2 separate regions of the Homo sapiens genome follow, and region 2 is linked to region 1. The links come from fine-mapping of genetic effects on gene expression. A gene starts in region 1. The other region holds a variant in brackets. All regions are shown on one strand. Distances are from middle to middle.

Region 1 (4,388 bases):
GTAGTTGAGGGATCACTGAGGAAATTCTGACCCTCTCTCTGCCCCTGGAGAACTTCCTCTTAGACTTCTTCTTTCTTCTGTTCCTAATGAACCCCCTCCAACAAAAACCCACCTCCTCTCCCTCTCCCTCTCTTCTTGCTTCTTCTTCCCTATTCCTTCTTTGGAAGTGTCAGCCAACTCCCAGATCAAGGCCCTTCCTGGTTGGGCACCTCTGACCCCCGCTCCTGCCCTGAGCCACCCCTGAAAGGTAGGAACATTCTCATTGCAAGTGAAGCAGGGACCTCACCCCTTTCTCCCACTGGCTCCCTCCCTCCTCTCCTGTTCTTGCATTGCCAGGCCTGGTGCCCCATCCTCCTCCTTCAGGGGCTCTCTCTGGTCTTGTCTAGAGTGTCTTTGGGTCTGTCCTGGTCCCCCTAAGACCCTCAGTCCTCATCACTGTCCTCTGAAGTGAGGCGCTCCTCCCAAAACCCTCACACCCCCTTCTGTGCTTTGGGCTCAGGTGGGGTGTGAGGGACAAGGTTTGGGACATTGTGGAAGGACCCAGCACAGGGGGTGAGGACAGGGGAAGGGGACTCACCTGTGCACAGTGTATGGGGTAGGGGGAGGAGGGGGGTCTGCAGAAGGCTCACAGGCGTCTGAGCTGGGGGTCCAGCCCACAGGGTGGTGTCGAGGTGTGACACAGCCCAGGGCACCAGGTGGTGGGGGGACATGAACAAGGCAGTGGGTCTGGGGCCAAAGATGAAGCTTGAGAGAGGCTCAGGGACAGAGACGGTGGTGGCCAACAGGATGTCAGTGAGGGATCTGCACTGTGGCGTGTGTGTGTGACTGCATGTACATTACAGCATGTATGTGAGTGTGTGTGACCCTGTGTGTGATTGTGAGCGTGTGACTGCATGTGCATTATGGCTTGTGAGTGTGTGTGACCCTGTGTGTGTGTGTGTGTGTGTGTGTACCCAGGCCTGGCCATTCCTCCAGCCCCTCCTCCCCGAAGGCAGGAGGGAGGTGGCCAGCGTGGGGGAGGGTGCCAGGCCTGGAGGAGGAAATGCCTCCGGGAAATGGAAATGGCTTAGAAACAGAGGCTCTGTCCCATCCCATCCCATCCCGGGGATCCTGAAGGGACCCTAAGCTCCACACCCAAACCTCTCCGGCCAGGCTGCGGGGACAGGGCCGACGGAAGGTCCCCCGTGGAGGCCAAGGCCGCGTCTCCCCAGGCAGAGGCCCCAGCCTGCCGGCCTCCTCCCGGCTGCACATCTGGCCGGGCCGGCAGGAGGCAGTCCCTGCCGGAGAGCAGACAAAGGCCCAGCCGGGGCCTGCGGGAGGAGGGGGCCGGCGCCCGGGCTGGTCCCCCACAACCGGCCGCTAATTAAAGGCCCTGAGCCCGACCGCTGGAGACACCCTGAGACAGACGGCTGTGGCCTCACTGACCAACTCAGGGGAAGTGGGCGGCGCCACTCCCACACCCAGACACACAAACACACACTGGCAGCGACACACACCCCGCGCAACCAGAGACCGGCGCTCGGGCACTGTAGACCCACAAAAGACGCAGGACGCCTCCACCGCAGACACACACGCCGACAGGCTCAGTGCACACTCACACACCCGGAGACAAACACATGGAGACACACAACCACACACTCCCAGACATGTGTAAACACACACTCATTTACACGCGCACACACGGGACAAGACAGAGAAACACGCGGACACACAAATACACGCACCCGGGGCCTACACAAACAGAAACACACACATACATACACAGACAACCCAAGGAGACAGACACACAGGCCTACACGCTGACACATACACACTCATTTGCATGCTCACACCAAACCAGAGACAAACTCACAAGTCCCACAGACCTAGACACCCCCCCACACCAGACACACACACACAGGTATTTACACACTCATCACGGTCAGAGACAAACGCACACATGCTTGGGGACACACACACAAACCCAGACACACACACACTCGCCTCCAGATCTGCGCGCACATAGCAAACCCCTATGCGCACACACTGTCCAAACACACAGACACACAAGAGACTCATCCCCAGGCACTGACACACACATGTAATGCACAACCACTCTGCCCCTACGTGGACGGACACACACACACACACACACACACAGCGCAAACAAACCCACGGCAACCCCGGGCGTGATCAGTGGCGCGCGCACTTGCGGACCTCAGGCACCGACCGGAGTCGCACAGCGGGATGCCCTCCCCCATCCAGGGCACCACAGCCCCACGCCCTCACAGCCCGATGCGGACACACAAAGTCCCACTGAATCACGCACCCCCGGGCCCCCCGCCCGCGCCGCTACCTGCGCCGCGCCCGGGGCCTCCGCGCCGTCGCCGCCGCTGTCTCGCCGCCCCGCGCGCGCAGGAAGGGAGGGAGCGAGCGAGCGCGGCGGCGTGGCCAGGGGAGGGGGCGCGGGGAAGGCACTTCCTGAGCCGCCTGCCAGGGTTATAAAAAAACCCCCAAACTGCGCGCGGCCAGAAACCCCGCCCGCCTGCCGCCGCCCGGCCTGGGCCGCGGGCTGGACCCCAGCCAGGGACCCGGGAACTCGGGCCGCCCCGCCCGGGACCAGCGCCCCCGCCGCGTGGGAGGGGGCTGGGGAACCGCGGGGGGCGGGGAGGGGACGAAGCGGGAGAAATCGAGTGGCGGCGGGGAGAATGGGTGGGGGAGGGGAGAAAGAATCAGGTGGGGGATGGGGATGGAGGCAGAATTGGGTGGGTGGGGGTTCGGGGAAAGGGAGGAAGAGAAGGGAGAGGTTGGGGGAGGGGGAAGTTTGAATGGGAAGGGGTAGGGGGAGATGGAGGCCTGGAGGAAGGGGCTGAGTGAGGTGGGGGGAGGTGGGGGCCTGGAGGAAGGGCTGAGTGGGGTGGGGGGAAGTGGGGGCCTGGAGGAGGGGCTGAGTGGGGTGGGGGGAGGTGGGGGCCTGGAGGAAGGGGCTGAGTGGGGTGGGGGGAGGTGGGGCCCTTGAGGAGGGGCTGAGTGGGGTTGGGGGAGGTGGGGCCCTGGAGGAGGGGCTGAGTGGGTTGGGGGGAGGTGGGGGCCTGGAGGAAGGGGCTGAGTTGGGTTGGGGGCCACGGGAAGGAATGGAGGGGGGTAAGGAATGGGGCTGGAGGGGGGATGGGAGCATGAGATGCTGGGGTTGGGGAGGGGAGAGCCCACTTCCTCGCCAGCCTCTGCGGCATCAACAACAGCTGTTATTTATTGAGGGCTGGGCCTGGCTCAAACAAGCATTTATTGGGCGCCTCCCGTGTGCCAGGCACGGTGCCCGGGGCGGGAAATAAGTCCCAGCTCGGCCCCGCCCTCTCCGAGCTCTCAGGGGGGTTTGATCGGTCCTGGGCCTGGCCTTGGTCTCTGTGCCTTAACTCCTTTGCGGTGACGTAGGCTCAGCTGGTCCCATTTCACAGATGAGGAAACTGAGGCCACAGAGATGGGGAGAGTGAAAATTCTGTTGGAACCGGAGCCCTCTTGGTCTTGGTCACTCTGGGTCTCGCTCCATAAAATGAACGAATGCGTGAATGAGGAGGACCTGGATGGTTGGGGCAGGGCTGGGATTTGAATCCCAGGCGCCTGGTACAGTGCCTGGTTCCAGGGAAGGGCGGTGACCCCCAGGCCTCACAATTGCAGGCATTTCCCAGGAACGCCCCCCCCCAGGGAGCTGGCCAGAGCCTTGGCCTTGGCTTTGTCTGAGTCTGGGTTTACTCATCCACACAGTGGGGGTAATAACAGCCTTCCCAGGGCTGGAGTAGGGGGTGGAGGAGGGGTTTCATTCTGCAGCAAAGATTTGTTGTTATGTGCTGGGTTCCAGGGACACAGCTGAGACCAGGAGGGCAGCTTCCCAACTCGGAATTTTTCCTTTTGAACTTGGAATGACCTGTCATTACTCACGCATACAGCAGGTGCTGCATAAATACCAGACTCCTGGAGTTCCCACCACACTACCTTACCCCAACCTCCTGGGACTCCAGGCTAGACCAGAGGTGCAGCCCCCACCCTCCTGTTTGCTCCCCACACTCCCTCCTTCCCACCAGGGCCTCTCGGGCCCCCATTTGAGGAACGAGTCTAAGTCAGCCATTTCTGGCCTCTGTTAGCTGTTCTTCTACTACCTATGGGGCCCTCTTTCTCCATCAAAGAGGTGGTGGCTTCCTTTCTTTGCTGTAGATACTAAAGGCTCCCACTGTTAGCCTAGTGACTGGTCCAGCCACCTGTCCCTACTTTTTTTTTTTTTTTTTTTTTGAGATGGAGTCTTGCTGTGTTGCCCAGGCTGGAGTGTGGTGGTGTGATCCTGGCTCACTGCAACCTCCGCCTCCCGGGTTCAAGCAATTCTCCAGCCCCAGCCTCCCGAGTAGCTGGGTTTACAG
Region 2 (4,388 bases), 69 kb after region 1:
TTGCCCCTGCAGGCTCTGCTATTGGAAGCCCCCTGGACTGGGGACCCCCGGCCTGGGGCTGAAGCACTCTCATCCTTGTCTGGCTCTCACAGCTGCCTCTTAAGGCCACGTTCCCTGGATGCTGGGATTCCAGGATGTCGGGGCTGCCTGCTGGCTCCCAGATGGACTGGCTTGGCCACTTCTCCTAGGTCCCCCCAAGAGTCTGCATCTCCTACCCTCAACAGAATTGACATGGCCTTGCAGACTGCCCTCCCACCTGCCCTCTTCAGCTGTCACCTCTTGGAGGGGCATGTAGGGTCCAGACCAGAGCTCAGACCCTGCTGGGGGCTGTGGTCACCAGTGCCCTCTGGATGCCGGGCTTCAGGGCCATCAGATGTGTTGCTGACACCCACTGCTGATCCCATGGGTCTGTCTCCTGGGGTGACCTGCCCTGCCCCAGGGAACAGTCCTGAGGGTCTGGGTCAGCCCTCTCTGCCCCACAAACTGCGCATCAAGTCCCGAGCCTCAGGCAGGGTACCTCGTGGCTGGGAGGGTGGTCAGGCGCCCCTCTGAGGGCTTCCTCTGGGAAGGGCTAGGCTTGCAAGGGGGTGTTTGGGGGCGGAATATAGGTTTGTCTGAGGGATGAGTAGCTTGGTCTTGATCAGCAATCTGGGAAGGCCTGTAGGAAGTAGGGGTGCCCTGGCTTGGAAGGTCCACTTCACAGCTTCCATACCAGACCTCCTAGGGGTGGAGTGGATGGGAGCCCATCTTGGATTCTACCATGGCTCTTGCCTTGCCTTAAAATCTATGCTTTGGGTTGTCACTTTTCCCTCTTCCTTCCTCCTTTCCATTTATCTATTCTTCCCTATAGCCATCCATTCATCCATTCATCCTCATTTATTCATCCATTCATTCATTCATCAATCCTTATCCATCCATCCATTAGTCCCTCCATCCTTATCCATCTATCCATCCATCCATCCATCCATCCACCCATCTATTCATCCATCCATCAATCCATCCATCCATTCCATCCATCCATCCATCCATCCATCCATCCATCCCTCCATCCATTCATCCACTTGTCCGTCCATCCATCCATCCATCCATCCATCCATCCATCCATCCGTCCATCTATCCATCCATCCATTCATCCATCCGTCCATCCATTCAGCCATCCATCTGTCCATTTATCCATCCTCCATTTATCCATGCATCTATTCTCATTCATCCATGCATTTGTTCTTCCTTCTTTCTATCTAGCCATCCATTCTCATTCATCCATGCATTTGTTTTTCCTTCTATCTATCCATCCATCCATTCATTCATCCACCCATCCACCTATCTATGCATGCATCCATCCATCCTCATCCACTCATCCACCCATCCTCACCTATCCATCCATCCACCCATTCTTTCTTGCTTCTATCCATTTTCCCATCCACACACCTATCCATTCATCCATTCATACATCAATTTATTCTCCATCCATCCATCCATCCTCATCCATTCCCATTCATCCATCCATCCTGTCTTCCTTCCTTGCATCCACTCATCCTCATCCATTTACCCATCCATCCATCCATCCTCACCCATCCATCTACACATCCTTCCTTTCATCCACCCATTCATCTACTCATCCACCCATCCATCCTTTCATTCATTTATTCATTTAGCCACTCATTTATGTGCTAACTTGTTTATTCATTCATTCTCTTACTCATTAATTTACTTATAATTCACTTGTCCCCTCACCCACCCACTCACGATCTTTAGACCTTCCTTTTGTGCCCAGTTAGTGACAAGTGAGAAGACACTTTTCTGGTCTTGGGTTTCCTGTCCTGGGGTAGGAATGGGTGTTTGGGAAGAAACATACTGAAGACCAGACTGAAGGAGGAGGTAACGTCTAGGGTGTCTGAATCCCCCTTCTTGGTGTCCCCTGGGGGGCTTGCTTACCACCCAGTTTGAGGGGCAGACATATTGGCTTCTTCTGTGTCTTGGATCAGGCCTTGAGCTGCTGGAACAGGAGCAGCTGTGTGAGGGCATCAGTGTCCTCTCTCTCCCTGGCTGCCCCCTGCCCCTGAGAACCAGGTATACACCCACCCAGGTGGAAGGGTCCATTCTGCAGGGAAGGTCTTCCAGGGGCCTGGAGCCCAAGGACTTATCAAGGCTCCCTCCTCCTCAGTTTCTCACTCAGCCCCTCTCC[CATTATT/C]ATTATTATTATTATTATTATTATTATTATTACATCAGGGATCTTGTTAGATTCTAGATAAAAATACTCAAACTCCAATCATGGGGAGAGCTCATGGGATGGGGGGCTCATCTGGACTGGTACTGACACTGAGAACCAGATGCCCCTGGCCAACTGGATCACTTGGACTCAGGAGCATCGCCCACCCCCACCAGATCTGGGGGCTGGGCTAGTTCTTGGCTACTCCAAGTTTATCAGAGCCACAAATGTGTGCAGGGTGAGGACGTACAAAGTGCCTCTCTCTCACTAGTACAACAGGTGGGCAGTATCACCAAACAGGCCAAGAGCTCCCCTGTGACTGGGCATCCCTAGAATCCTGCACATCACAGGTAGGACCTCCTCTACTTGCTCAGCCTTTGGTTCTGGTCCAGGGCAGGGATTGGGCAAGATCAGCCCTTCTCCTTCCCTCCATGCCTGACCTTCCAGCAGGTGGCTTTTCTCATGTCACTGAGCCTCCCTTATACATCTATAAATGTTTACCTATAAATGAGCCCATTCCCTAGAAATATATTGTGAATATTAAATAAGAGGCAGTAAATAAATTGCCCGGTATAGGGGCTTCTCTGGACTGTTTTATCTTCATAAATAATGTGAATCCTGGAGGGCAAGGTGGCTCATGCCTGTAATCCTAGCACTTTGGGAGGCCAAGGCAGATGGATCTCACTTGAGGTCAGGAGTTCGAGACCAGCCTGGCCAACATGATGAAGCCCCGTCTCTAGTAAAAATACAAAAATTAGCCGGGCATGGTAGCGAGCGCCTGTAATCTCAGCTACTTGGGAGGCTGAGGCATGAAAATCACTTGAACCCAGGAGGTGGAGGCTGCAGCGAGCTGAGATTGCACCACTGCAGTCCAGCCTGGGCGACAGAGCGAGACTCCATCTGAAAAAAAAAAAAAAAAAAAGGAAAAAGAAAAAATCCTGTTTCCCTTTTTGCTTTGCCCACCAAGGAGCTCAGGGCCGAGCTTGTGGCTCAGCTATAACAGCATTTTCATTCATTCATTCATTCATTCATTCATTTTTTAATTCATTTGCTTATTTAGCAAATTTTCTTGATCATAAGTTTCTCATTGTTTCATTTTATTCAAGGCATGTTTTGTTGTAAAAAGTCTGAAAATCATATGCAGCCGAGTTGGCAGTCTTTTCTTTTGTGGTTTGTACATTTTTGTCATGTTTAAGACAACTTCCATGTCTCAAGATCATAAAGATAGTCTCCTATCTTTATGTTCCAGGTACTGGGGAAAGAGAAGTGAACACAATAGATGTGATTCCTGCCTCTATGGTACTGATAACCCAGGGAAGGAGATAGATTAAAAAATAAGAAAAACATATAGTAGGATCAATGATGATACGTGTCATGGAGAAAAAAGGGAGGCTTGGGAAAGGTAGGTGTGGGTGCGTTGTAATAATTGAAATAGGGAGATCAGGATTGAAATAGGGGGATCTCAGCCTTGCTGAGAAAGTGACATTTGAACAGAGACTTGAGAGAGATGAAGGGGGGAGTCATGCATGTATCAGAGGAAGAACATTTCCTAGTCAGAAAGAACAGCCTGTGCAAAGGCCCTGAGGTGGGATAGTGCCTAGTGTTTTGAGGAAGATTGAGGAGGCCCATGTGGCTGGAGTGGAGTGAGTAAGGGGGAGAGAGGGAGGAGGCGAGGGCAGGGAGGTGATGGAAGCAGGTTGTGGAGGACTTTGTGGGCCAAGGTGAGGACTTTGGCTTCCTTTCTGAGTGATATGGGCATGAGGGGGACGTTTCCAAGTATATTTCTGTTGTAGTTCTCCCCTTACCTCCATCCTGTGATGTGTGAGGCTGAGTGAAAATAAACCCACCACATAAGTGCAGGAGAGCTGGCTCATTGTCTGGGGTGGGGATAGGTGGGGACTGACCACAGTGTTGCTGTGACTCATGTCCCCCTAAATGGCCACATTCTCCCTGCGCTCAGAGCCAGGGTGCTCATCCCATCCCTGCTTCTAAACTTCTCTGAGATATGACGGACAGGGCAGGTAAAGCTACTCCATGAGGTGGAATCATGGAAGAAAAACACAGATGGTTCTTTTTTTTCTTTATGAAGCTGTCTTCCACTAAATAATTATTTTTGACAAGTGTGGGAGAAAGGGTAATCAGATGCATGTGGGGGATGCTGGAAGGGCAAAGGGATGGC

What was found. PIP is the estimated chance that this variant, and not a neighbour inherited with it, causes the effect. A credible set is the group of variants that fine-mapping cannot tell apart.
Region 2: its variant is the best candidate, but not a certain one, in a credible set for the expression of ADAMTS10 in whole blood (INTERVAL, PIP 0.80).

What each region holds. Positions count from the first base shown.
Region 1 is chr19:8,608,309-8,612,696 of GRCh38, forward strand. ADAMTS10 (ADAM metallopeptidase with thrombospondin type 1 motif 10) reads right to left here and starts at 2,407. Exons shown (of 26, transcript NM_030957.4): 1 at 2,336-2,407. RefSeq lists a silencer at 1,305-1,727.
Region 2 is chr19:8,677,084-8,681,471 of GRCh38, forward strand. NFILZ (NFIL3 like basic leucine zipper) reads left to right here. Exons shown (of 6, transcript NM_001378600.1): 6 at 1-4,068. The coding sequence ends at 552. Among named protein-coding and RNA genes, the nearest start is that of ACTL9, 20 kb to the right of the region's middle. The variant CATTATT/C (reference allele first, on the strand shown) is at 2,186.